4 linked regions of the Homo sapiens genome follow. The protein of the gene in region 2 interacts with the protein of the main gene of each other region in a pairwise test. Each region holds a gene or a part of one and is shown on either strand. Other genes may lie near its edges. The genes, in order: NEK6, PBX4, SPANXN3 and MAPK9.

The links.
Region 1: the proteins of PBX4 (region 2) and NEK6 interact in binary tests that used the Homo sapiens proteins (3 or more experiments, as listed by UniProt).
Region 3: the proteins of PBX4 (region 2) and SPANXN3 interact in binary tests that used the Homo sapiens proteins (3 or more experiments, as listed by UniProt).
Region 4: the proteins of PBX4 (region 2) and MAPK9 interact in binary tests that used the Homo sapiens proteins (3 or more experiments, as listed by UniProt).

What each region holds. Positions count from the first base shown.
Region 1 is NC_000009.12:124,253,705-124,260,948, reverse strand, and holds the start of NEK6 (serine/threonine-protein kinase Nek6), read right to left. Parts: upstream 3,001-7,244; 5' UTR 2,864-3,000; intron 2,709-2,863; exon of another isoform or gene 2,588-2,708; intron 1,740-2,587; exon of another isoform or gene 1,455-1,739; intron 1-1,454. UniProt on the Homo sapiens protein: Protein kinase which plays an important role in mitotic cell cycle progression. Required for chromosome segregation at metaphase-anaphase transition, robust mitotic spindle formation and cytokinesis.
Region 2 is NC_000019.10:19,608,687-19,615,708, reverse strand, and holds part of PBX4 (pre-B-cell leukemia transcription factor 4), read left to right. Parts: intron 1-7,022.
Region 3 is NC_000023.11:143,514,469-143,521,968, reverse strand, and holds the start of SPANXN3 (sperm protein associated with the nucleus on the X chromosome N3), read left to right. Parts: upstream 1-4,493; 5' UTR 4,494-4,577; coding exon 4,578-4,655; intron 4,656-5,074; exon of another isoform or gene 5,075-5,279; coding exon of another isoform or gene 5,280-5,354; intron 5,355-7,500.
Region 4 is NC_000005.10:180,289,077-180,296,429, forward strand, and holds the start of MAPK9 (mitogen-activated protein kinase 9), read right to left. Parts: upstream 3,008-7,353; 5' UTR 2,772-3,007; intron 2,200-2,771; exon of another isoform or gene 1,962-2,199; intron 1-1,961. UniProt on the Homo sapiens protein: Serine/threonine-protein kinase involved in various processes such as cell proliferation, differentiation, migration, transformation and programmed cell death.

The sequences.
Region 1 (7,244 bases), on a different chromosome or scaffold from region 2:
CACAGTGCCTGCTACCTTCCTAGTACAGTGGGGAGACCATGGGCTCTGCTCAGACAAGCCTGGGTTCAAATCCAGCTCTGCTGCGTATTAGCACATGGTCTTTGGCGCATTCTCTCATCTCTCTGTGCCCCAGTTTCCTCATCTGTAAATGGGCATCGTGACAGCTTCCATCTTAGTGTTGGTGAGTGGACTGGGTAAAATACAGCACCAGACCTAGCACACAGTATATCCTCAGTAAATGGGGACATGGCCGGGCATGGTGGCTCATGCCTGTAATTCCAGCACTTTGGGAGGCCAAGGCGGGCGGATCACCTGAGGTCAGGAGTTCGAGACCAGCCTGGCTGGCCAACACAGTGAAACCCCATCTCTACTAAAAATACAAAAATTATCTGGGCGTGGTGGCACCTGCCTATAATCCCAGCTACTCAGGAGGAGGCTGAGGCAGGAGGCTCACTTGAACCCAGGAGGCAGAGGGTGCAGGGAGCTGAGATTGCGCCACTGTACTCCAGCCTGGGCAACAGAGTGAGACTCTGTCTCAAAAATAAATAAATAAATAAATAAAAATAAATGGGGACCATCTATCGTGGTGCTACTTTAATGAAATTATGCAAGTCATGTCTCTGAACCTCAGTTTTATCATTTGTGAAATGGGGATAATAAACCCTATCTACGATGAGCAGAAAATGAACGGATGTGTGCTAAAGTACTCAGCACTAGGTCTGTGCACCTTAGCCAGTCAAATACCATATCCCAAGTGCAATGGAAAGAGGAAAGGCTGTGAGGCTGGGCAGGTGACTTCGGATTCTGCCCCCACCTCCTCTCAGCTGCCCCAGGACACAGGCTTGACCCCCGTGTGCCTCAGTTTCCTTGTGCACAAAACCAAAAGCATTTTCTGTCACAGAAGACCAACGGGAGATTCACACCCCCTAGAACGGCTCCCAGCACACAGCCCCTTCTGCTCCGCAAAAGGGAACTTCCTCCCCATTTCCCTCCTCTGCCCTTGTTCAAACCCACCAGAAATGCCACCAGTTAAAGCCAGGCGCTCCATTTCTGGAAACCCAAACAGCTCTAAATCCAGACCAACCTGGGTCTAAGGCCTTCAGTCTGAGACTTTATTTTGTGGAGATACAAACTACTTTTTAGTCATTTCCGAAGCAGACGGGACAGCAGAGGCTGACAAACCACAGGGACCATTTTAAATCCTGGGCCTTTTCTTCTGGGAAGTTAGGCAAGAACCTTCCCAAATGTTTGCCCGTCAGGCTCTCTGCCAGGGAGTGACTCATTCCACGGCTCCCCACAGGCATATTTTATTTGGGGGTGGGGGACGCAGCGAGGGCTTGGCCTTGATGGGGGAAGGAGAGGGGGCATTTCCAGCAAACCCAGAAGGTGTTTTCTTTTTTTCATTTTCAGGAGAAAAAAGAAAAAGAATGTGGGTCTTTTTTGCTTCCTTCCAGGTTTTGTTTGCTAAAAGAAGACGTCCAAAGTTCATTCGGTAAGCTCAAACTCGCTGAGTCCAAACTCGCTGAGTCCGGGGCAGGCGCTTCCAGACGGCTCTGCGTCCCTTTCAATGAAATTCTTCTTCCATTAACGACAGGGTTTTTAAACGTGCCTCCAAGACCTGCCTGCACGTACTGTACACCAAACTAAGGCGACATTTTCCCCCAAAAAAGGCAAGCTGAATTTGGAAAAGTCAGACCAACTAGGGAGCTCTGGAATTTCTAAAGTTTGCCTTAAAGCAATTAAGACTTTCAGCTGCAAAGATTTTCAACAGTTAGAGAGCACGCACACACACAAAAGCCTGTCAGTCAAAACTGCAAGGACAGACCTCGGAAGCTGGTGTCCCAAGCCCGCTGTGATCAATTTGTTACTGTCCTGGGATTCACACTTGGAGCCTAGGAGAGGTATAAATAAATCAAAAGATCCGTCTACTTAGCAGGGCAGGCAGAGAGGCCCCCACATACACAGGCAAGTCTAGGGTCAGCCCCCCAGGCCTGGCTGGAGAGAGACAAGAACAAAGACAGGAGAGCCTGGAGGATATTTAGGAAAACACACGTCCTCGGGTGCCCGGCCGAGGGGCCCACCACAGCCTCCGCTCGCCCAGCCTGTGTATGCAGAGAGGGTCCTGCCAGTGGCCCTGCCGCAGCCTGGCTCTAAGACCTTTGCCTCTGTCAGGCCCAGCCAGGCTCTGAGTCTGCCCTCCTGGCCCCTGGTTCACCGGATCAGGCCCAGCCCCGACCCCCAGCCCATGCCAGGCCGCTTCTCTCTCCACGGGCTCCCTGGCTCGGGGGCCATCACTGTGCAAAGGCCTGGTGGGCGCAAAGGGGGCCGGCCCCTCAACCTCAGTAATAAACACGCTCGCACGGCCCTGCACACTCGTTATACTCACACCCACACAGGCATACTTTCGCCCTTCTAGGCTCACGCATGTGCTTGCACACAAATCACTTTGGAATGCACACACGTGCACACACACACTCCCTGAGACCCGCACGTACTCCCTGCGGCGCCCGGCACACTCCTCCGCCCGTCGTCCCCACTCGGGAAGTGGGTAGCGGGGAGCCATGCCCGCGTCCCCGCACGCACTCACCCCAACAACGCCACCAGACGCTCCGGGGTGCACACGCACACCCGCCGGGGACGCGCACACCCCGGGACACGCGGACACGCCGCCCCCGCCCGCCCGGCCGCCGACACGCTCAGCCCCGCGCGGCCACACTCGCGCCCGCCTCCCGCTCTCCCCCGCGGAGCCGTGGGCGCGCGCCCGCCCTCGGCCCGGCTGGGGGTGACGGCCCCGCCGCCCGGCCCCCGCCCTTCTCCGGGCCGCGGGGCCCCACCGGCCCGGCCCCAGCCCCAGGCGACTCACCGGCGCGCGGGCGGGCTCGGCTGCCGCTGGGGGACCGGTGCGCTGGCCCGCGGGCGGCTGGAGCGGTGCGTCCCACACGAGTTTGCGGCGCAGCGGCCGCACGCCCGTCAGCTCGGTTCCGCCGCCGCCGCCACCGCCTGCGCGGGCCCGCGCGCCCGCGCGCCCGCCCCTCCCCGCCGCGGGGCCGCGCCGCCCCCAGCGCTCGTGCGCGCTGCCGCCACGCAAGCTTGAGGGGCGGGGGGCGCCCCGGCGGCGTCCTTCCTGGGCCTGGACCCCTCGACTCCGCCGAGTTCTGCGGCCGATCCGCTCGGCCGAGGAACCCCTTCCCCATTTCAGAGATGGGAAGACTGAGGCCCAGACTCACAGGGCGCAGGCCGGCGTCTCCCCATCTTCTCCGGCTCTAGACTTATGATGAGGGTCTGCAGTCAGCCAACCCTTGGACTCCTGTGCGTCTTCGGATTCCCCATCGCCTAGCATTGCTCCTACCACAGCCCTAGTCATACTGAAATTGGCACAGTAACAAGCACTTATTGTGCACCAGCTGAATGCAGGCACTGAAGTAGGCTCCAAGAGTATTCCGATGAGGGGAAGGCCCTGCCCCCTGCCCTCAAAGTGCCAGCGACTCTTCATCTGGAGCTCCCACTTCCTGTGGCCCCCGGGGGACCAGCAAGAGCCAATGTGCAGAGGTTTCTGGAAGTAGTAAAAGTCCCCACTAAAGAATGTTGAACGCCCCCTCTAGAAGTCAGAGCCTCCCTGAGACCCAAGCAGCTCAGTTCTCACTTCACCTCCTCCCCGCACCGAGAGCGGCCGCTCCTGGCTGGGCTGTTTCCACCCCTGCTGCCTCCCCTCCACATTCAAAACTGTGCTGCACCCCAGGAGGGCTGGAGCCAGGGACACTGACTGCCTGCTTGGGCGCAGCACTGTACTGGGCACAGGGTGAATGCCCGTCTGGCTTCTGTTTGCCAAATGAGTGGAAGTGCTTCAACTGGCCGTGATCTGTAATAATGACACCAACGGAGCGTCCACCACGTGTGCCAACGTTACCCTTGTGCCCATTTTACAGATGGGCTTTGAGGCTTAGAAATGAAATTTCAGGCTGGGTGCGGTGGCTCACACCTGTAATCCCAGTACTATGGGAGGCTGAGGTGGGAGGATGCCTTGAGGCTGGGAGTTTGAGGCCAGCCTGGGCAATATAGCAAAACCCCATGTCTACAGAAAAATGTAAGAATTAGCTGGGTGTGGTAGTGCCTGCCTGCAGTCCCAGCTACTCGGGACGCTGAGGCGGGAGGGTCTCTTGAGCATAGGAGTTAGCAGCTGCAGTGAGCTATGATCGCACCACTGCACTCCAACCTGGACAACAACAATAAAAAGCAAATTCTTTTGTTCAAAGTCACCCAGATGGTAAGTGGTTGAGCTGGAAAGTGCACGGCAGATTGTCTAATTCCAGTGCCTGTGTGGCCAATCACTAGGCAGCCCTGCCTCAGGAACAGCATAGCCCTGGGCTTCTGGAACAAGAGGGCAGACGAGGCAGCAGCTGGCCCACAGGAGCGGGCCTGGTCCCAGCTCTTGTGGATGAAAATGCAGACATCACAAACCAATGGGGAGGAAATGGATTGTTCTGCAAATTGTTTAGCCGTTTAGCTGGAGATCTGTTTACAGCCTTGCCTCCCATGATATACACCACAATAAATGTCAGACAGATTGAAAAGTTAAATAGAAGAAATAAACACTGCAACAAATAATAGAAAGAAATCGAAGTTCTGAGACAGCGTATTGCAGTGTTACTAGAGGATTTGTGATACTGGCCATATTCATGCAGCAAACATTAGTTCAGTCATTGGTTCACCCGACACATCTATGAGCACCTTCCATGGGCCAGGTACTTTTCTAGGCACTGGGATAAAGGAGTGAACAAAATATGGCCCTTTCTTGGGGCTTCAGTCAAGGGGGAGGGATGGGGTGGGAGGAAGACACTGAATATCTGCCATTTCAAGGATAAGAAGTTTGGGCCGGGCGCGGTGGCTCACGCCTGTAATCCCAGCACTTTGGGAGGCCGACGCAGGCGGATCACAAGGTCAGGAGATCGAGACCATCCTGGATAACACGGTGAAACCCTGTCTCTACTAAAAATACAAAAAAATAGCCGGGCATGGTGGCAGGCGCCTGTAGTCCCAGCTACTTGGGAGGCTGAGGCAGGAGAATGGCGTGAACCCGGGAGGCGAAGTTTGCAGTGAGCCGAGATCGCGCCACTACACTCCAGCCTCAGTGACAGAGCGAGACTCTGTCTCCAAAAAAAAAAAAAAAAGAAGTTTGGTGGAGAAATAACTCGGAAGGGTAGGAGGACCCAGGGGTGCTTTTTTATAGGGGGTGCTGGAAGAAGGCCTTTCTGATGAGGTGACATCTGAGCAGAGGCCTGAATGAGGGAGTGGGAGAAGTCAGTAGGGGCCCACTGTGTGGAGGGCAGGTCCCATGTTCTGGCAGCTATTCAGTTAAGCTACAGAGCAAGAACCAGAAACTCCCTTTTGAAGGAAACTTTGAGAGCCGCACCAGGCCACTGGGAGGAAAGGACTGCCCCCACCCCCAACACACAATATCTATGTAAGACTTTACTGCTTGCAAAGCCCTTCCCCAGCTTCACAGAACCCGTATGACAGATACTTGTGATGTCCTCATTTTCCAGTTAGGAAACCGAGGCTCAGAGAGGTCAAGCAATCTGTCCCAGGTCACACAGCCAATGATAATCAACAGAGGTAGGTCTGGCTGCAGGCAGGCTGAGTGTTAGGGGAATAAAGAAGCCTTGTCCTGGGATACAGGAGTGAACAAAAATCTAGCTCTGACTCTCTTGGGGCTTCAGCCAAGGTGGGAGAGTGGGATGGGAGGAAGACACTGTGAATGTCTGGCATTTCAAAGATAAGAAGTTTGGTGGAGACCAGGCGCAGTGGCTCACCCTGTAATCCCAGCACTTTGGGAGGCCGAGGTGGTGGATCACCTGAGGTCAGGACTTTAAGACCAGCCTGGCCAACATGGCGAAACCCCATCTCTACTAAAAATAAAAAAATTAGCTGGGCATGGTGGCACGTGCCTATAATCCCAGCTGCTCGGGAGGCTGAGGCTGGAGAATTGCTTGACCCCAGGAGGCTGAGGTTGCAGCGAACTGAGATCATGTCACTGCATTCCAGCCTGGACAACAGAGCAAGACTCTGTTTCAAAAAAAAAAAAAAAAAGTTTGATGGAGAAATAAAGCAGGGATAGGTAGGAGGACCCAGGAGTGCTTTTGCATTGGGGGTCCCCCTCCCCCTTGGATGGGAGCAGGGTAGGGGAGGCCCATGCACCCCATTTTCCTGGCCTTCCTCCTCCTCCATCCCTCATGGCCACTTCTTTCCCTCTGTCCTGGGCCCTGTGCAGATGGTCCCAGCTCCTGGTGACACTATGGGGCAAATATCAGGGTTAGCCTGCTCAGAGATTCTTGAATTCCCTGCAGTACTCTGATACACTGACGAGGGCACAGTAGAGTGATAAGGTACAATGCAAGCTGAATCCCACTCAACTTTTGTTTTTAACTCAAAGGAGTTTTTAGGGAGTCCCAAAATGAGTCATCGTGAAGCAGTGCTTTGCAAAATGACACCCAGAATTAGGATGAGCGTCTCCCTGCACACGTTGCCTCACACTTCTGCCCACCGAGGCGTTGTTCAACTGGTCTGGGAGAAAGTCTGTCTCCGTTCACCCCCAAAGAGTTTCAGGATTCAGTATGTGTTGTTTCATTATTTCTCTGCACGAAGGGAAGAGAAACTACCGCTTGCCGGGCACCTTCTCTGCATCTGGCTCTGTAAGAGACAGTTAATTCTTATAGCATCCCTTGAGATAGGGGTCATGATTTATGTTTTATAGATGAAGAAACTGAGGCTCAGAAAATAGCCAGGATTTGAATCCAGGTTAACTCAAGTCCTTTATTGTTGTTAGTATTGGGGGAGGGGGTAATGGGGGAGAGAGGAGAGGCAAGAAGAACTTAGAATCAGGCCATGTTCCTTTGAAGTTCCTTTGTTACAAAATATCTTCTTGCCATCTTCCCGGTAATGGGATTTTTTGTAGGGGGTGAGTTCCAATTTTCCCAGAAGGATTCATTCGCTCTTGTCATCCGGGTGCGATTATTGACAGCAACCCCTTTCCCTCTGCAAGTGTCTTGCTTTGGATGATCAACTTTAGGGTCACCTTGGGTGTCTGCAAAGGCCACTGCGTTGGGGGATTCATTTTTTACATTATACAAAATGGGGGTGTCTTGTCTGCTGGGCTCTTCGCCACATACTGATGTCTGGGTGTCCCACCAAGAACTTCCAGGAGAGTTTAAGCAGTTAAGTCACATTTTTAGGAGCAGCAAACCCTG
Region 2 (7,022 bases):
TGTTGGCCAGGCTGGTCACAAATTCCTGACCTTAGGTGATCTGCCTACCTCAGCCTCCCAAAGTGCTGGGATTACAGGCGTGAACTACTGTGCCTGGCCTGTTCTTCAATGAATTTTTAACAAATTTGGCCGATATTTATCGGACCTTTACAATATCTGGGTACTGAACTGGGTTCTGGCATAGCTCTCAAGTTCTTCCTGCTCTCAAGTTCATGGTTTGGGGAGAGAAAGTAAATTTGTTCTTCAAACTTTCTTTCCTTTGCTTCTCAGGGAATGTTGACACTTTTTGTAGTTTCAGATGCTCTGTTTGAGAAATTAGAGTCCTTGTCACCATACAACTATTTCTTTGGCTTTTTTTTTTTTATATAAGGCCGCGCTCTGTCACCCAGGCTAGAGTGCAGTAGTGTCATCATGACTCACTGCAGCCTCAACCTTCTGGGCCCAAGCAATCTTCACACCTCAGCTTCTTGAGTAGCTAGGACCACAGGCCTGTGCCACCACGCCTGGCTAATCTTTCTTTTTTTTTTTTTTTTTTTTTTTTTTGGAGACAGGGTCTCACTCTGTCACCCAGACTGGAGTGCAGTGGTGCAGTCTCAGCTCACTGCAACCTCTGCCTCCCAGGCTCAAGCAATTCTCCTGCCTCAGCCTCCTGAGTAGCTGGGATTACAGGCGTGTGCCACTACCGCCTGGCTAATTTTTTTTTGTATTTTTAGTAGAGACAGGGTTTCACCGTATTGGCTAGGCTGGTGTTGAACTCCTGACCTCAAATGATCCACCCACCTCGGCCTCCCAAAGTGCTGGGATTACAGCCCTGAGCCACCACACCTGGACTAATCTTTCTATTTTTTTAGGTCTCCCTATGTTGGCCAGGCTGGTCTCAAACTCCTGAGTTAAGAAATCCTCCCGCCTCAGCCTTCCAAAGGTCGAGGATTTCAAACATGAGCCACTGAGCCTGGCTCCTCCAACTGTTTTCATTGTGGTTTTTTGTTTGTTTGTTTGTTTTTGTTTGTTTGTTTGGCTGTTTTTTGGTTTGGTTTGGGTTTTTTTGAGACGGAGTCTCATACTCTGTTGTCCAGGCTGGAGTGCAGTGGCGCGATCAGGCTGGAGTGCAGTGGCGCGATCTCGGCTAGTGAGCAACCTCCGCCTCCCGGGTTCAAGTGATTCTCCCATCTCAGTTTCCCAAGTAGCTGGGATTACAGGTGTGCACCACCACACCTGGCTAGTTTTTTGTATTTTTAATAGAGATGGGGTTTCACCATGTTGGCCAGGCTGGTCTCAAACTCCCGACCTCAGATGATCTACCCGCCTTGGCCTCTCAAAGTGTTGGGATTACAGGCGTGAGCCACTGCGCCGGGCCATGTTTGTTTGTTTGTTTTTGAGACAGGGTCTTATTCTGTCACCCAGGCTGGAGTGCTGTGGTATGATCTCAACTCACTACAACCTCTGCTTCCCAGGTTCAAGTGATTCTCCAGCCTCAGTCTCCCAAGTAGCTGGGACTACAGCCTCAAACCACCAATGAATGGCTGGCTAATTTTTGTATTTTTTGTGGAGATGGGGTTTCACCATGTTGTCCAGGCTGGTCTTGAACTCCTGAGCTCAAGTGATTCACCCATCTTGGCCTCCCAGAGTGCTGGGATGACAGACGTGAACCAGTGTTTTTATTCTTTTTGGAGCATTGTACCAGGTGCTAGAGAAACCAAGATGGCTAAGATGTTCTCTGCCTTCTTGGAGCCCACTGAGAAGTAGGGTGTGTGGGAGACCAACTTGTAAATAATTGTTATAACAGGAATGTGCTGTGTAGAGGTAATTCCTAGCACAGAAGAGCTGTGCCAGGAGAGGGTGCCTTCCGTGATGTCTGTTAGGCTAGTCGGAGAGCAGTGGCTTTATTATACTTTGTGTTCCCAGAGCCAGGATCAATGCCTAGCACCTTGCATTCAGTAGTTTCATGACACTGAGGAGATTCTAGAGGGATTAGTAGGAGTTGGGAAAGGGGGAAGATGGTTTTGACACACCCAGGAATGTCACCGCAGAGGCAGAGCTTTGGGTGTGTCCTGGAAGCTACTTTTGTACTTTCCAGACCGGGATATTGCTGCTTAAGGGGTGAGCTCTGCTCAGATGTGGCCTTCCTCAGGCCCAGCACAGCCCCAGGGCTGCTGCATTTTCCTTGCAGCAATCTCCTGAGATTCTAGTTTCCCTAGACAGGCTTTAGATTTAGAATGGAATGCAGCCAGTTACTTTTTTTTTTTTTTTTTTTTTTTTTTTTGAGACAGAGTCTCGCTCTGGCGTGTTCTTGGCTCACTGCAACTTCTGCCTCCTGGGTTCAAGAGATTCTCCTGCCTCAGCCTCCCGAGTAGCTAAGATTACAGGCGCCTGCCACCACGCCCGGCTAATTTTGGTATTTTTTTAGTAGAGACGGGGTTTTGCCATGTTGGCCAGGCTGCTCTCAAACTCCTGACCTCAGGTGATCCTCCCACCTCGGCCTCCCAAAGTGCTGGGATTACAGGCATAAACCACCACGCCCTGCCAGCCAGTTACTTCTTTACCATTTTCAAAGATAGCTCTTTTTGTTTTAAGGCTAAGAAATTAGGCTGGGTGCAGTGGCTCACGCCTGTAATCCCAGCACTTTGGGAGGCCGAGGCAGGAGGATCACCTGAGCTCAGGACTTCGAGACCAGCCTGTGCAACGTGGAGAAACCCCACCTCTACTAAAAATACAAAAATTAGCTGGGCATGATGATGCCCACCTGTAGTATGTGTCAGCTACTGAGGAGGCTGAGGCAGGAGAACCGATTGAACCCTGGAGACGGAGGTTGCAGTGAGCCGAGATCGTGCCACTGCACTCCAGCCTGGATGACAGAGAAAAAAAAAAAAGAAATTAAATGGTGTGGTGGGGGGCGTTATTCATGCTTGATAACACAGGTGTTAGGTAGCTGGTTCCTGGTTTCTGGCCTCTTTCTGAATTGGGATGACCCCCGGGGCTTTTATTTCGAGACTTTGAAGCTTCAAATCTCCCTCATTTCTTTGGACCTAGCCTTTAGATGAACTCAAAGCCCTAAAGTTCACTCAAGTCCAGACAAAAATCATCCATCCTCAAATGGGCTATTTCCACCCCTCTGGAGGAAATACAGCTCCTCACAGTAAACCCTGCAGCCTGGTAGATTACCAACCTGGGCTGGGAAGCAGATTGTCTCTTCTGATCAACTGATCCTGTGAGGCTTTTGAAAATCTTTCTGATCCTGCCCACTCTCAATGTGCCAGTCACCCCTTTTATCACCCCAGCAGTCAGTTGAACTCAACTGTTTAGCAAGAAGGAATTTTTCATCTCAGTCGTGAGGCCCTCTGAACATGTTTTGTTGCCGTAAGTTTGTTTTCAGAAGGAAAATATAGCTCTCTCTTCAAACCTGGGTTTTTTGTTTTGTTTTGTTTTTTTCTTGAGACAGAGTCTCACTCTGTTGCCCTCGCTGGGATACAGTGGTGCGATCTCAGTTCACTGCAACCCTCGTCTCATGGGTTCAAGCAATTCTGCCTCAGCCTCCCGAGTAGTTGGGATTACAGGTGTGTACAGGTATGCACCACCATGCCCGGCTTAATTTTTGTATTTTTAGTAGAGACACAGTTTCACCATGTTGGCCAAGCTGGTCTAGAACTCCTGGCTTCAGGTGATCTGCCTGCCTCAGCCTCCCAAAGTGCAGGGATTACAGGCATGAGCCACTGTGCCTGGCCTTAACATTTTTTTGTAGATACAGAGTCTCACTATGTTGCCCAGGCTGGTTTTGAACTCCTGGGCTCAAGCTGTCCTCCTGCCTCAGCCTCCCAAAATGCTGGGACTACAGTCATGAGCCATCCCACCCATTCTAAATGCTCACTGTTATAATGTTTTAGGAGCAAGCAGTGTGGTGTGTGAGATGGCATACCTAAAACCAAAAATGTATTTGGAAGTTGGTTTTAGGCAACCCAGCAATGCCTGCATAGGTTTTCTTAGGAAGAAAACATATCTCTGAACTTTTCTTTCTTTTTTTTTTTTTTTTTTTGAGACAGAATCTCACCCTGTCACCCAGGCTGGAATGCAGTGGCATGATCTCGGCTCACTGCAACCTCTGCCCCCTGGGTTCAAGTGATTCTCCTGCCTCAGCCTCCCAAGTAGCTGGGATTACAGGCACCTGCCATTGCACCAGGCTATTTTTTGTATTTTTAGTAGAGACGGGGTTTCACCATCTTGGCCAGGCTGGTCTTGAACTCCTGACCTCATGATCTGCCCGCCTCGGCCTCCCAAAGTGCTGGGATTACAGGTGTGAGCCACCATGCCCGGCCTTCTCTTTTTAATTTGATTTTTACTATTATGACCTCAACTAGTAGAGATTTGCATAACTTTCTTAGTCCCTCCAATATTTCTGCAGATTGACTTTGCCTAGATATGGATTAAATTCCTATTATGAAGGGGAGATAATGAAGTGATTTTGACTATCCTTTAAACTTACTGAAGAGGCAAGGTGTGAACTGATACCTGAAATGTGTTCCCCTAGGCTTGGTACTTTTGCAATAGTGAATATAAGGTCAGAACACATATACTTATAAAGTATGTATACTTATGTATGTTCTGACCTTATATTCATACATAGTTATAAAGCATGTCAGTGAGCATTCAGCCTTCCGCACACCCATTCAAAGAATGCAAGGGTTCTAGGGGGAATTTATGATGTGGAATTTCCCAGAGCCAGATAGCATTAGCATGAGAGGATCTATCAGTCCAAACCTGGGAAGTAGGATTTCATATTTAAAATTTTCTTTTTCAGTATCCCTAAAGAGATTAATTAGATGCCAGTTGACTTCGTGCCTTGTAGTCTTTCTTCTTAGCTTGCTTGCAGGCTTAGCTTGACTTGGTCTAGTGCCAGAGGAGTCTTGCTGTCTTTGGTGTACTTTTCCTAAGAGTTGAATTGTGTTGGTTTTTGTTGTTTGACACAGAGTCTTGCTCTATCACCCAGGCTGGAGTGCAGTGGCGTAATCTCGGCTCACTGCAACCTCCACCTCCCAAGTTCAAGTGATTCTCATGCCTCAGCCTCCTGATTAGCTAGGATTACATGCATGCGCCAGCCACCACACCCGGCTAATTTTCATATTTTTAGTTGAAACGAGGTTTCACCATGTTGGGCAGGCTGGTCTTGAACTCCTGACCTCAAATGATTATCCCGCCTCGGATTCCCCAAAGTGCTGAGATTACAGGTGTGAGCCACTTTGCCCAGCTTGAATTGTGTTGTTTTTATTTTTTTGTAAGTTTTTTAAATTTTTTATTGTTTTCGAGATGGAGTTTCACTCTTGTTACCCAGGCTGGAGTGCAATGGCACAATCTCTGCTCACCGCAACCTCCACCTCCCGGGTTCAAACAATTCTCCTGCCTCAGCCTTCCGAGTAGCTGGGATTCCAGGCACGTGCCACCACACCCAGCTAATTTTGTATTTTCAGTAGAGACGAGGTTTCTCCATGTTGTTCAGGCTGGTCTCGAACTCCCAACCTCAGGTGATCCGCCCGTCTCAGCCTCCCAAAGTGGTGGGATTACAGACGTGAGCCACCGTGCCTGGCAAATTGTGTTAGTTTTAAAACAATTCCCTGAAGCTATCTAAAAGTCTTTTGGCAAAATCCCCTTTGAAATAGCTTTATTAATGAAAAGTAAAGCCATGTGTAGAATTTCACAAAGGAGCAAGTACCACTCACTCATTTAAATGACAGCTACCGAGTGCCTCTATCAGAACACAGTGGTTGATGATGATGACAATAAGGATTTCCCTCATTTACCCCTCCCCAGAACCCTAGGAAGTGGGTGGTTTTTCACTGTTTGTTTTTCTTTCTTTCTTTAGTTTTTTTGAGACGGAGTCTCGCTGTGTCGCCCAGGCTGGAGTGTGGTGGCGCAATCTCGGCTCACTGCAAGCTCCGCCCCCCGGGTTCACGCCATTCTCCTGCCTCAGCCTCCCGAGTAGCTGGGAATACAGGCACCCGCCACCACGCCCGGCTAATTTTTTTGTATTTTTAGTAGAGACCGGGTTTCACCGTGTGAGCCAGGATGGTCTCGATCTCCTGAGCTCGTGATCTGCCCTCCTCGGCCTGCCAAAGTGCTGGGATTACAGGCGTGAATCACTGCGCCTGGCTCTTTTTTTTTTTTTTTTTTCATATGGATTTTTGCTCTTGTTGCCCAGGCTGGAGTGCAATGGCGCGATTTCGGCTCACCACAACTTCCGCCTCCCGGGTTCAAGCGATTCTCCTGCCTCAGCCTCCCAAGTAGCTGGGATTACAGGCATGCACCACCACGCCTGGCTAATTTTGTATTTTTAGTAGAGACGGGGTTTCTCCATGTTGGTCAGGCTGGTCTCCAACTCCTGACCTCAGGTGATCCACCCGCCTCAGCCTCCCAAAGTGCTGGGATTACAGGTGTGAGCTACTGCGCCTGGCTCTTCACTGTGTTTCTAGATAAGGAATCAAGTGGCCAGATAACTGGAGGGTAGTTGGATGGAGATTTGGGCATGCTCTATTGAACTCTGAGGCTGTACTGCCTGCCACCTGTCTCTGCTTTTCCCAGGGATCCTACAAAACTCACTTAAATCTGACATCGCTTCCTGCTCAGAGGAGCCCAGCTGATTGGGTGCCGTGGGAGATCAGACAGTCAGGCTCGGGCTTTACAGGACACTTTTAAAAGTACATTCTCGCAAATTAAATGTCATCTACTCAATAAACATGTATTTTGTGCCAGGTCTGGTGCTGGGCTTGGGAATGCAGCAGTGAGTTCTGAAAGGAGATTCATTATTTGGAGAGGCAGACATTGGAGAGTGCGGTGACACGGGGACCAGAGAGGGCAATGAGGAGTTAGCCCTTCAGCAAGACTAGAGCTTGTAGAGCATGGGCAATCAGAGTGCATGACTCTGGAGTCTAGGTGAAGTCAGGCGGGGGACAAGGAGCCTTGAGGAGATGGCCAAGATCTGGACTTGAGGCTTTGCCTAGGCAAAGAAAGTGGATGCGGCATTGTAGGCTTGGTGC
Region 3 (7,500 bases), on a different chromosome or scaffold from region 2:
TAAAAAAATGATGACTTCATGTCCTTTGTAGGGACATGGATGAAACTGGAAAGCATCATTCTCAGCAAACTATCACAAGGACAAAAAACGAAACACCGCATGTTCTCACTCATAGGTGGGAATTGAACAATGAGAACACATGGACACAGGAAGGAGAACATCACACACCGGGGGCTGTTGTGGGGTCGGGGGAGACGGGAGGGATAGCATTAGGAGATATACCTAATACTAAATGACGAGTTAATGGGTGCAGCACACCAACATGGCACATGTATACATATGTAACAAACCTGCACGTTGTGCACATGTACCCTAAAACTTAAAGTATAATAATAATAAAATTTTTAAAAAGTGAGGATTATAGAATCATAGCATATTTTTTATTTATTATCTTATTTTATTTATTTATTTTTTGAGACAGGGTCTCACTGCCACCCAGGCTGGAGTGCATTGGCCCCATCTCAGCTCACTGCAACCCCCACCTCCTGGGTTCAAGCAATTCTCGTTCTTCAGTTTCCTGAGTAGCTGGGACTCTAGGGATGTGCCACCATGCTTGTCTAATTTTTGGAATTTTTAGTAGAGATGGGGTTTTGCCATATTGCCCAGGCTGGTCTCGAACTCCTAAGCTCAGGCAATCTGCTCGCCTCAGCTTCCCAAAGTGCTGGGATTACAGCTGTGAGCCACTGTGCCCGGCCTCATAGCATATTTTTAAAAAATGACATTGGTTGTTCCAATTGACTCATGCTACAGCTGAGGGATCTGAAGCCTACAGAAGGTACGCAGTTTACCCAGAGTACCAGAAAGAATATGAGATGTAGGGCAGCTTGAACTTGGTTTGAACACTGTTTCACAATTACTGTGTTATTGAGCTTCTCTGAGCCTCAATTTCCTTATCAGTAAATCAGACCCGCATGATGATATCTACCTCCTGGGACTGCTGTGAGTATTGCATCTCTGCTGAACATCTTCCCTCTGCCTTTCCAGATCCACTCACCACCATTCTTCACCTGTGCTGTCCTGAGAGGCTATTTAGGAAGGATTCTCTCAATGGGCTCCTGGACTCTGGTGTCCACTGGGTTTGGCTAATGAAAAGCCCCAAGGAGAGTTGGAGGTGGGAGGGAGAAAGGAAGGAGAGTGAGGGCTGTGGACCTATTCCCCTGGCTCCATCCCTGTGAGTCACCTTGAGCTGGATGAGTCTCTTGGTGGAGGTCACTGTACTTCTGAAGACAGCAATTTTCTCATGATTATTGATTTTTCCAGATTCTAGTAACCACTTCCTCCCTGCTCTCATTCCTTTGGGTTCGGAGTTATGGCAGCTGCTACTAGCACAATCTCTGACGTTCCCCCTGCATCTACCTGTTTATAGATGGTCCCTTTGCAGACAAATATTTGTCAAATATCCCATTTTGGATGTATCATCTGTTTGACCTAGATACTATGTGCTTAGAGCAGAGCCTGACATATAATAGGTTCTTGGTGTATAGAATCTATGGCTAGTAGTAGTATTAATATTAGTGTAGAGGTAGTGGTGGTTGCAGTGGAGGTAATCGTGCTGGTATTTTTCAAAGCCACTCATTCAGTCACACGTAAAGCCAGTAGTAGGATGTATTTCTCTTTCATACTCAACTCTTTCTCAATGATTGCTTTTCAACTGTCTGTGCTCCAGAGGGAAATATACGGTTGGCTTCTAACACCTTGCTCTTTGTGGCCATGGAATGCTGCACATCCCAAGCAGATCCTATCCTGTGTCTGGTACTTTGTGTGGTGTTTAAACCTACCTTAGATAAAAATTGTAACAAAAATCATTAAGAATGCAGTTGAGGGTTATTATTATAACTAAACTAATGTCAGTCTGTAATATCACTTGTACAAAGGCTCAAAAACAAGAGGTGAAAAGGTTTAAAGGAGTCCCTGGTTCTGACCCTGGGTCCATCTCTGACTTACAGCATGATATGGGAGAGTCACTTTGAGTAGTTCCTCAACCTGATATGAAAAAGAAGAATATTCTTAAAAACTGAACACATCAGAAATTTTAAAAAAAATCAATACAATGAACTCATTGTACACTGATGACCTTTAATTCTTTATTATTCATTTTAGTGGAAAATATAACATAATCACTAAGTTTTTCAATAGGAGTTATTTTATAAAGTAAGTTGTAATCTTTCAATAGAAATATGCCACTGAATGTGTTCCTAACATTTTGATGAATTTTCACTGGATAGTGATATACCCATCAAAATATTTTTTGTAAACAAATTTAGAAAACAATCATAAAAGGTAATAAGGTAATTGAAAGCTGTTATTTTCAGCAATTTTAATCAATTTTTGACCTACCCTATTTGATGCGGCATGGCTGTTGGTTCTTGCTTGTTTTGTTTTGTTTTGTTTTTTATGACATGACAGTTTGATGTTCTCACTGTTAATTGCAGGCAAAAGTCCAAAAGAAATAAATACTTAGATGTTAGTTTGTAAGAATTTACTAAATGGAGTTGTTAATCTGTAGACAACATCTGGAATTCACTAAGGAAAAAAAATGTATACAAGGTTCGCTTGGTTTGTTAGTGTTTAGATGGCAGTCATGGGAGTGCTATAAATTATTTGTTTCTGGAGGGTCAGCAGCGTATTTTGCTAGGCTTTTATTGATTTTATGGTGTATGAAGTAAAGATATGTGAGCTTGACGAACACCGGAACAAAAATCCAGGGTCTACTTCACTTTTGTTCTATTTTTAAATTTTTTTTTTCCGTTATTGCGTTTTGTGACTTCCTATAGAGAATGGACAAGTGTCAACCTATGGGAGGAATCTAGGGCCATGCCTTCTTTATCTTTGGCCCTCTCTCTTATTCTCTTTTAAAACATTTTTAGCTTTTTATTTTGAAACAATTATAAGTTCACAAGAAGTTTCAAAGATATGTACATGGAGGCCTTATGTACCCTTCAACCAGCCTCTCCCAATGGTAAAATCTTCAGTACACTACCACATTACACTATCAAAACTAGAACATTGACAGTGATGCAATCCAGAGCTTTTTAAGATTCAACACTTTTCTTTTGGCTGTTCTAGGCACTTTACATTTCCATATGACTATTATAATTATCTTGTCAATTTCTATTAAAAATCCTTTTTAGAATTTTGATTAGAATTGAGTTGAACTTACAGATGAATTTGGAATAACTGCCACTTTACAATATTGAATCTTCCAACCGAAAATCAAAGTATACATCTGGATTTTTGATGTCATTAACTTATCATTGCAATTTTTTTGTAGTTTTAAGTGTACAAGTCATTTACATTTTTGGTCAGATTTATCCCTAAGACTTTAATATTTTTAGTGATATTTTAAATTGCACTGTTCTTAGTTTCAACTTTCATTTGTTGAAATTAACTTCCAGTCCACCCTAGGACTACCATTAGCTGAAACACTGCCTCTTCTAATATATAAACATACAATTGATTTGTGTATTGATCTCTTACTCTGCAATCTTGCTAACCTCAATTATTGTAGAAGCTTTTTTATAGATTGACTTTTCTACATATACTTTCATGTAGTCTTTGACAAAAGACACTTTTACTTCTCCCCTTCCAAACTGAATGCATTTTTCTTTTTGCACTGGACACAATCTTCAGTACAAAGTATAACTATGCCCATACTGGTGCACATGTGGGTCTTAGATTGTAGCATCCTGCATGTAAACACTGAGAACAACTTCCAGCACTTGAATATCCACTCCTTCCCCCACCCACATACTGGCAGAATTCATGTTGGGAGACTACATTTACTATGAAAATACACCCCTCATTTGAAACAAGACTAGGATACACAGTAAAGAATGTTTATTCACTAAAATTTTGACAGACTGAAGGCCATTATTGCAGATTGGAAATAGGAAATTTAAAAGAACTACACGGACATTGAGTAAAATAACATGGGTTGAAATTTGCCTGGCAGTAGCCTAAAAGTAAATGGTCTTCAAGGTGCATATGAAGGAACTGTAGGAGGGAAATGGGATAATTAATTATTAATTATTAAATGTAACTAGTAATTAATAACTAATAATTAAATGTAGCCACACTAGCTTGGGGGATTTGAGGTGAGACATCTAAAATACTAAGTCATGGTGAGGGCTGGAAGACAAAAGAATGAATCACTTCATAGGAATGGCTGTGGGGAAGGGCTTGAAGGAATCATCCTCTGACTTCCATGTGAACCATGAACATTAAACATGGAGAAATGAGGAGCGGCGGCAGATCGGTTTGGGATGCATCTTCAGGGGATGCTGAAACAACAACCGCATTTGGTTTCCTCTACATCCCTGTCACCCCTCCCCCACAAGCCCAAGGAGTGGTCAGCAGTGGGGCTTTGTGATGTCAAAGCCACCTTAGGACCGCCATTGGCTGGGACACTGCCTGTATGATCAAACAAAGCTCAAGGGTGTGGCTTTGCCTTGTCACCAGGAGGGTATATATAGGGAGGGCAAGAGCTCTGGGACATCCCACTGGGAAGCTTCAACATAGCTGTGGAAGTCTGCAGTCTACAGGAGCCTACTATAGACATTCTACAACCAACCAGAATCATGGAACAGCCAACTTCCAGCACCAATGGGGAGAAGACGAAGAGCCCCTGTGAATCCAATAACAAAAAAAATGATGAGGTAAGATTGTCAGGTTTTGAAGGGAAGGTGAGGGTGAAAGAAAGACACACAGAGAGGGGGTGGCTCAAACAGCAACACAGGAATACTGCAGACACCTGTGGAAGTGGGGGACCCGCTTAATGCCAGAGCCCACCGCTGCTTACAGGCTGGGGTGCTTGTAGGTAGGGGTGGGAGGGGCCTGGGCAGTATGGCTTGCTGCCCGGCAGGATATTGATAAGATGTTTTTATGATCAGGCTGTTTGGTCCTTTTTCCAGTGGGATGTCATTGTGGTGTATCTTGAAACTTTGCCCAGCAAGATATGATAGGAAAGTTTCTTTAGTTGGACCTTTGTCCGTCTTGTGTTACGACGATTAGGCAAGATTTTTCTCATGGCCCGAACCCCCGTGGAATGTTTCACTTTGACCAAGGTCTGAAAAATAGCAGGGTGCTTACTAAATGGTGGTTTGGACTCACATTCTTGCCTTCTACTTTAGTATAAAAGGAAGAGGGGCATTGTTGATTATCTGGCTGCTTCCTGCCGAATAGGGGAGCTGTAATCAGGGTTTGGGTTTTGAAGCAGTGGGTGTTGGACTTCAGAGTTGTTTTCCTGGAGGCACTGGTACTGGACTTGGCAGAGGAGAAGGATGGTATCAATGTGTTGCTGGGTGGCCGCCTGGACAGGGGAGTTTAGCCTTCGGGAGATAAAGCGGGATATGAAGGTAAATATACATGGGCCAATTGTAGTATTAGGAGGAGGAAAATTAAGGGTCCTAAGAAAGGGGCCCCCTGCTATCTCAGTGCTGACTGCAGCAGAGATGTTTACTTCTGCTAACACTAGAATGAGATGTAGAGCCTGCTTAGTGTGTGTGGAGGAAGATGAGACAGAAGCTACTAAAGGAACCTGGATGGTCTGCTTGTTAGGCAAAATGTTAATGTTTAGGCTGAAACACCAGGGTGTATGTTCCTGACCATTTGGCCAGTAGGCAGAGATAAGAGTTTGTGGCACAAAAGAAGAAGACACTGGGGGTGGACAGACAAAAGTTGTAGGTTATGGTGGCAAGCCATGAGAAGGTGGGTGTTGAATTCTGCAGAAATTCTTTGTTTTAACTTTTATATTTTTCCAAGTTGAATAGCTGCCAGCAAGGGTAGCCCCTCTGACGGCCTGATAGGAAATGTTGGTGGTGGAGGAGATGGAGGCTGTTTGGTTTTGGAAAGAGAGGGGGAAATGGGTTTTTGTAACTAATAGCCATTGTAGCCCTGACAGGGCAGAAGGATATAGGTTGCACTTGAGGGAATTGTTTGTGCATGTTTTCCAGCGAGCGCCCTTGAGTTGGATAATATGAAGAGCGGCTCCAGCCAAGAGGGGAGGGGTTTCTAAAAGGTGTTTTATGGAATCCGTTTGTAACATATTCAGTTAAGAGGCTATGAGGCGAGGGAGGGTGACAGCCCTGTATGTGATGGTGTGGGTGGATTTGATGGATTGGGGGAAAAAGAGTTTAGCTGATCAAGATTATAAACAGGTTTGGGAATGAACTGGTCAAGTAGGTGAGATGCAGGCTTATTTTGGACCGAGTTCATGTGGCCAGGTTGACAGGAAGGGCTGTGAATTGCTGGATTTGTGTGGACAAACAAGTTTAACAGTTGGAAGGAAGAGGGGAGTGTGACTGATTTAAGAGGAAAGGTGTGAGGCTGATGAAGGGGGCTCAACTGTCAGAGGTTGGGGGTGGGGACTTAGAGTATCCCACAGACAAAGAGGACAAAAGAAGAAAGAGGAGATTTGAGTAGGAGTGAAATTTTGGAAGGTGCCCTGCAGTCATACCTCCTGGATTAGTATGACGAATTGGCATGGACTATTCAGGGACATGGGGAAGGGTAGCCAGGAAAGATCTGAAATAAAGTAGGAGATAAAAGATTGGAAATTGGAGACAGAGAGTGTTATGGACTAAGGTGTTCTGGATTGGCAACTTCTGGAATTCTTGTTAAGTACAGTGAGGTTGGTCCTGTCGGGGAAGGAGAATAATATGGGGGTGAGGAAATTTCTAGATGTGGGTCTGGTGCTCTTTTTAGTTTGGAATGGTGTATTCAGTGTGGAAAGGATGTTAGCTTTGCCCCAGTCGGAGTAGTTAGGATAACCTGGTGGGAACATTTCCGCTTAGGTTGGAAAGGGGAGGAGGAGGAGTCTGTGATTCAGACCCAGTCCCCTGGTTGTAGGGACAGGGCGGAGTATTTTGAGGATGGACTTTTAGGCTGGGTCAAGTAAGCATTTGTGTACTGTCTTATTAGATGTTGGGTGAGGTGTAACGCCGGCCAAGTATTCCATATAGAATGGGGGGAAAATACAGGGAGATTCTGGAGGATAAAAGGGCATTTGTACATGAGTTTAAATGGGCTTAGGCTGAGGAGCTTTTGGGAAATGACTCATAAATGCATGAGGAACAATGGGAGAAGTGAAGTCCAGGCCATTTTAACCTTTAGGGAAGATTGGTCAGTTGCTGTTTTCTAAAAAAGTTTCCCTGAAGATTCGGGGTGGTAAGGAATATGCAAAGCCAATTTAATGTTTACAGCCTTTACCAGCTGTTGGTTAAACTGTGAAACAAATTGGCCCGTTGTCTGACTGGATGCAAGAGGGGAGTTTAAACCGGTGGATAATATGGGTGAAGAGAATAGAAGCAATGGTCTGTGCCTTTTCGGTGGTGGTGGGAAAAGCTTTTATCCATCCAGAGAATGTATCTACTATTGTCAGAAGGTATAGGAATCACTTTCTGGGGGACATGTGAGTGACGTTGATTTGCTAGTCCTGCCCTGGTAAGTGTCCTCAGACCTTGTGTGTTGGAAAGGAGGTGGTTTGATAGCTTCCTGAGGGGA
Region 4 (7,353 bases), on a different chromosome or scaffold from region 2:
CAAAAATAGTTGCCCTATTGGCAAATCAATAGTCTCAAGAAGAAAAAAAATCTGGTCTCTGTTTTATCTTATGCCTCATGAAAACAACTGGTTTACTCGCTATTAACTGGTTTGTCTGGTCCTTTTCTTTATCCAGAAAATTAAGAATATTTTATCTTAGACACATTCAAGTATCCCCTCTGTTGTTTATTTACGGGACCAAATAAACAGATTTTAATCTGTGAACAAATTAAAGTCCTGGCACCCTGAAAATTAAATTGCCAGGAAAATCAAAGCTGTCAAAAGAGAAGTCTATGCAAAAATAGTATTGTTTTTAACTCTGCAGGATCCTTTTGAAGAAAAAAAAAAGTTAAATGGAGGAAAACATTAAATAGATTGGTGGTCATTCTTCCAGAACAAGTTAAAAGCCAAAAGAGAATACTCAGAGCTGAGGGACCCAGGAAAGAATCCTTATCTGGGAAGTGATCTGGGTTCGAACTCCACTCACCAGCTGCTTGCTAAGAAACAGACTACTTAGACTCCTGAGCTTCCGTTTCCACAGGGCTCCAGTTACAATCAAATGAGTATCTGGGCTGGCACCTGGGCAAACAGGGCCTGGCTCCCCTGGCCTTAGGCTACCTTTCCTGCTCTCCTCACAGCTCCTCCCTCCCACACAGCCAGTCCTGGAGGATGACGATCCTGCAACCAAGCTGAATGAATCTGTATTTGGCTTGGCTCACAGCATTAAAAAAAAATTTAATTAGCTATTGCCAACATTTAAAAATCAGAACAAATGTGGAGTGCTGCCTTCCTTTTTAGAGACAGGGTCTTGCTCTGTCACCCAGGCTGGAGCACAGTGGTGTGATCATAGCTCACTGCAGGCTCCAAATCCTGGGCTCATGGGATCCTTCCACCTCAGCCTCCCAAGCAGCTAGGACTACAGGTGGATGCCACCACACCTAGCTAATTTCTTAAAATTTTTTGTAGAGACAGATCTCGCTACGTTGCCCAGGCTGGTCTTGAACTCCTGGCCTGAAGTGATCCTCCCACATCAGCCTCCCAAAGTGTCTTGAAATTACTGGCGTGAGCCATGGCACCCAGCCAAATTCCACCTTCTTCTAGAAAACTGCTGGGTAAGGTTCCTGTTCTTTAGGGTCCCCACGACTCTGTGTCCTTACACCTGGCCCTCCAGACTGATTCTCAACTCCACAGTGGCCTACGGTCCTTCCTTGGCCCTGCTCCTTCACACCTCTGTGCCTCTCCCTGCCTAGCAAATTTCTTATCACCCTCAAGGCCCCCCAGCACCACCTGTCACCTCCTCCACATTTCCATGGCATAGCCCCTCCCCTATAGCAAGGGTTGTACAGTCCTGGAACTAAGTGTCTGCATGCCTGCCTTCTCTACTGGGCTCCTGGGCTCTCTCGGGAAAGGGACCCCGTTGCTATCTGCCTTGTGTCCGTAGGGTCTAGCAGAAAGCATGACCTAGATAATGCAGAATTCAGTAAATGTCTCTTGTATGTGTGGAAGAAAGCTACAGCTAAACTATTATAAAAATGTGAGATTTTATATCACAGCTTGTTCCAACAGTTAGCAATTAAAGGGGTCAAGGACACCAAAATGTTTCACAAAATAGAACAAGCTTCCATCTGCTTACAAGTTTCACACGCTAATCAGAAGTCACTAAATGAACAGATAAAGCAGAGACAACAGGCAGGCTGGGCCATTTCTTTGATCATTCATTCATTCATTGAGCTGATACTACTGAATACTTCCTGTGTGCTTTCTAAGCACTGGGGATAAAGCAGTGGACAAATCAGACAGCTACCTGTTTTCACAAAGTTACATCCTAGTCGGGGAGACAGAAAATAAGCAGGCAAATAAATAGAATAGTTTCAAACCAGATGAGAGCTAGGAAGGAAATTTTTTAAATAATGAAATAGCATGACTAAGGGAAGAAAGAGGGTGGTCGAGGAGGGCCTCACCCAAAACGAGACATCTGACCAGAGGAAGGAGCAGAAAGAGCTACTTGTGCCAAGATCACGGAGACAACTCCAAAGACGGGGAAACAGCAAATGCAAAGGTCCTGGGGCAAATGCGGGCTGGCATGTTCAAGGCGGGCGAGATGAGTGGGACGGGGCAGCAGTCTTCTGGGGGAGGGGCGCGGTGGTAAGGGATTCGGGCTGGGTCCCCTCTGGCACTGCTGGACACCGAGTGTGCAATGACAAGGCAAGAGAGGAGTGCGCGGGGAGGCGGGAGGCTGGGCGGGTGGGGAGGGGGTTCCTACACCACTCACACCAGCACGGGCCAGCACCCTGCCCAGTCTTCCACAGATGCACACCGGGGTCCTGCCCAGGCGTCTGCATACATTCACACAGCCTGACAACAACCCTGTCCAGAAGAGACATTTCCCCACCTTCCCGAAGGCAAAACCGCGGCAGAGCGAGGGTCAGTGCCTTGGCCAAGGTCGCGGGGACGCGACCCCGGGCCCCTGGGCACCCGGCGCAGGAGTGCAGCTGTCTGCCCCACCTCCGGGAGGGATGGCGCCCGCAGACCCCACGGGCAGGTCGGCCGGGCCAGGCCGGTGAGCAGGCCCGCAGCCCGGGGCTGCTGACAGCCGGGCGGAAGGGGGCGCCTGCGGCATCCCCCAGCACAGGGGCGACGGCTGCGGCTGCCAGGGCCCCGCAGCCCCCGGCCCGCCCCGAAGCCCCCGGCCGCGCGGTTCCCTCACCGCCCCTCCCCGCGGGCCCGGCCCGAGCAGCCGCCGCCAGGCCTAGCCCGCCCGCCGGGCTCACCTCGCCTCCCCGCCGCCGCGCCACGGGGAGAGGGCGGGCGGGCGGACTGGCGGCGCTGCGTGCTAGTCACTCCTGGCTCCGCGGCCCCGGCTCCGCCGCCGGCCCGCCCCGCTCCGCTCCGCCCCGCCGCCGCCGCCGCCGCCGCCGCCGCAGTGGGTGTGAGGGGCGCCGGGGCGCTGCGACCCTTCCGGTCCCGCTCCCTTCTCCGCCGCTGCCGCCGCCGCGGCGCCCGGTCTGACAGACCCTCGCGCCGACCAATCAGCGCGCGGAGAGCGGAGCAGGCGCGGCCAATGGCGCCTGGGGGGCGGGCCGATGGAGGGTGGCGCGGGCGGGGTCGGGGGCCGGGTCGGGCGCCCGAGGTCCTGGGCCGGGGTTCCGCGGGTTCTTCGCCCCCGGGCCTTTCAGTGGCGCGGGCCGAGTGGCCATGGCGCTCGGGTGCGCGCAGTGCACGCGGTGAGCTGGAGACGCAGGCATTGCGCGGCCCACCGGCTGAGCCCGCTCTCCCTGCGAGGGGGGCGCAGCTCGGTGGAGAGGGTGGCCCGGAGGACCGGGAACCGGGCTGGAGGCGCGCGGGGCTCACACCGCGGGGTCCGCGGGGAGCCGGGCCTCGGGCTGCAGGTGCAGGCTTGTGGCGGTGAGGCGACTGGAGCGGCACGGGAGCCCGCCCGTTTCGGGGAGAGCCCGGGGCGATCGCGGGGGGAGGCCGGCCTGGCGTCCGGGAGCCCGGCGTGCTAGGGCCCGGTAGGCGGGGCGGGCCTCGCACTCGGTTGCTCGCTGCGGCGCCGGAGGAACGGGTCTATGGGGGTGTGGGTGAGGCCAGAAGCCGGGTCGAAGAGGGGGAGGGGGTGCGAAGAGATGGCGGTGTGTAGACAGGTGACCCGGTGGGTCGGTGACGCAGGAGGAGACTGCGCTTGGTGGCGGGATCACTTAGTTGACAACATCTAAAAATTAGGAGGTGCGGCAGGGCGCGGTGGCTCACGCCTGTAATCCTAGAACTTTGGGAGGTCGTGGCGGGTGGACTACCTGAGGTGAGGAGTTCGAGACCAGCCTGGCTAACCTGGTGAAACCCCGTCTCTATTAAAAATACGAAGCAATGAGCTGGGCGTGGTGGCGGGCGCCTGTAATCCCAGCTACTCGGGAGGCTGAGGCAGGAGAATCACTTAAACCTGGGAGGCGGAGGTTGCAGTGAGCCGGGATTGCGCCATTGCACTCCAGCCTGGGTGACAGAGTGAGACTCTCTCAAAAAAAAAAAAAAAAAAAAAAAAAAAAAAAAAAAAAAAAAGGGAGGTGCTCAGTCAAGCCTCTGAGAGGAGTGGGGGGCGGGGCGAGGAGTCTCTTGCTCAGAGCCCCCTAGGGACTGGGACCCGTTGACTCTGAGCTGCTTTTGAGGCTGGATCAGGTACCAGCGGCCTGGGGGTCGTACAGGATGGGAGAGGCCGGGGCTTGGGATGTTGCCAGATCTACGTTGAAAAGTGAAGCAGGAAGAGAGGCACTGAGGCTGGGCACATGGGGAAAACCGTGGAGAGCCGGCCTTTGGGGACTAGAAGAGTGGGAACAATGGTTGACAAATGGTGAGTGTGGTGTAGAACAGCAGTAACACAATACCAGGATCCACAGAGTGGCCAGGGCCAGAGTGGGGAGAAGGAACAGGACTCTGCAGATGGGGAGGGTAAGGGGCTGGGTGGCGTGAAGGGTGGTTGCAGAATTTGGGGAGGGCAGCTAGCCTGTGACCCAGGTTCCAAGGGCACTGAGGTCTGGGCCAGGCCGCTTGGAGGCACCAGAGCCTCAGAGGAGGGGTGGGGTAGAGGAACGGATCCAGCATGGTGTCCCCCTTGGCCACCAGAGGGAGTTTTCTAAATTTGAGCATGGCTCATCGCTGCTTGAAATTCTACGTCACAGTGTGGCCTGCATTGAGGAGGGCCCACACCTGTCGCTACCTCAGACTCACCTGCCACCTGCCTCAAGTGCATGAGAGAGAACAGGAAACCAGAAATTGTCAGGATCGAGGATTATGGGAAAAGAGTAAAAGCCTAGCTGTCAGATCTGAGGTTCCACCAAGGAGCACTGATGGGTGCTTCTCATTAGGAAGGCGGTGCGGTGGCTCACACCTGTAATCCCAGTACTTTGGGACGCCGAGGTGAGTGGATCACCTGAGGCCAGGAGTTCGAGACCAGCCTGGCCAACATGGTGAAACGTCATCTCTATTAGAAATACAAACATTAGCTGGGCGTGGTGATGGGTGCTTGTAATTCCAGCTATTCAGGAAACCAAGGCAGGAGAATAACTTGAATCCACGAGGCAGAGGTTGCAGTGAGCCGAGATTGCTCCACTGCACTCCAGCCTGGGCAACAGAGCAAAAACTGCATCTCAAAAAAATAAAAACAAAAAAACAGAGGGGACACCAGTTCCCAGCACTCCAGGCCTAACTTCATAGCACTCACATCATGTCAAGTGAGTAACCAAAAATCAGTGTACATATGTACACAGCTATACATATCTCACACTAAGTTTTCTGTAAGAGTTCTTTTTATTGCAGAGACACTGCTTTTTTTCTGGTTTATGAAATACAGTGAACATTTATGGACACAAAGCTGAGGTGACAGGGTGGGGAGGGGGGCCTTGGAACAGCACCAAGAATCCTGGTTGAACCCTCCAAGTGAAAAGATCCTGCCACGACATACGTGAACCAGGTGTGACACGTGAGCACGTCTCACCTGATCCGGCCTATGGTGGGGAGAAGCAATTGAGGAAGGCCTTCTGGGCAGGAGGAAGTTGTTGCTGAGGCTGCCGAGCAGGATGTGTTGGGCCTGTGACTTAGGCAGAAAGGGCGCTCAGGCCCACATGCTCAGATGTGAGGACCTGCTTGCTGTGTTCAGGGAGCCACAAGTCACCTGGTCTTAGGGAAAGGTGAGGGGACTGGAGAGTTCTGAGGACCTTGAGGTAGATTGGCACTGCCAGGCATGTAGGCTGGCTTTAGCTCACTGATACGCCTTGTTCAGCCCAGAGAGGTTTTCTTTTTTTAATTGATTAGTTGATTTAAGAAACATTTAGATTTGGGATGAGCTGTTTTGGATGTTTATCCTCAATGAAACTCATGTTCAAACTTAATCTCCAATGTGGCAGTACTGAGAGGTGGGGCCTCTAAGCGTGGTTGGGATTAACCTGTCGATGGATTCATGGATTAAAGGGTTATCACCGGAGTGGGACTGGTGACTTCATTAGAAGAGGAAGGAAGACCTGAGCTGGCCTGTGAATATGCTCCGCCCCCTGGCCATGTGACACCTGCGCCACCCTCAGGACTCTGCAGAGTCCCCAGCAGCAAGAAGGCCCTCACCAGGTGCAGCCCCTCAACCTTGGACTTCTCAGCCCCCAGGGCTGTAACAAATAAATTCTTTTTTAAAGTAAATTACCCAGTTTCAGGTATTCTGTTATAAGCAACAGAATAAGAAACAGACTAAGACAAGAGCACAGCGGGGTGGAGGAGCTAGGGGTGCCTGGGGCATTGGGGACCTGTCCGGAGGCCAGCTGTGTATGCAGCCACAGTGCCAACGGGTTTCTGTGATCCTGATATCCCCCACCCTTGACTGGCCTGGATTCCAATCCGACTCTTGTCAGCTGTGCTCCTCTGGGCAAGGGATTCACTTCTGTCTGCCTTGGTTCTGTAGGAAGTGGCATGGAGAAGGACAGAAGCAGGAAGAGCTGGGTGCGGCCCATGCAGCAGGGATGGTGTAGGTCCTTATGCTGACTGCCTCTGTCCCCTCAACACTTTGCCTGCCCTCCCCCCATTGCACTAACCCACATCTTCCCTTCTCCCCTACAAGGACCCAGAGATGTGCTAGAGGGTGTAAGTCGGGGCTGTCCCAGCTGTGTGTTGTAGAAAACTAAACTGCACTTAAACCAATGGGGACGTTTACTGGGAGGTGCCTGTAACATCATACCCAGGGGAGGTAGGGGCAGAGCTGGTCTGGAAACTCTAGGGCCATGGAGGCCACTGCAGGCCCAAATGGAGTTTGAAAACCCACAACAATGGACTCTGATGGTCCCCCAGACAGGGCTTCCATTCTGGAACTAGTCAGCCATGCTGGGCAGACAGGCTCATGTGAGGACATGGCAGGGAAGGGCAGAATTGGGAAAGGCAGAAGTCTGGAAGTTTCTTCCATGGTGATGATTAGAATGAGGGCATCTGAGCTGGGGCGCAGCTGAGGGTGTGGCACTGTATGGAAACAGGGTTATTTGGGGGCTGTATAACTGAATGCTGAACCCAGTGGCCCTTAGCCCTCCTCCTCCGGGAATCCCCCAGAGCACCAGCAGCTGGGACTGTCCTCAGGCAGGGAGCCAGCAAGCTGTTCTCCAGAAGTCTGACCAGCCCTGAAGGGAAGACCTGAGGTATGAACATTATGACACCCCCACCCCCACCAGATTTCCCAGCAGTGAATCCTGCATCAACCAGCCCTACCATGCCTTAGACCTTCCAGTCAGCCCCCCTTGAATCTGAACAGACAGCTCCATGTCATATGGCTAAGAAAAGTAAGACAAAAAACTGCATCTTGAAAGAAACAGACTCTGTGGAGAAGGAAAATTC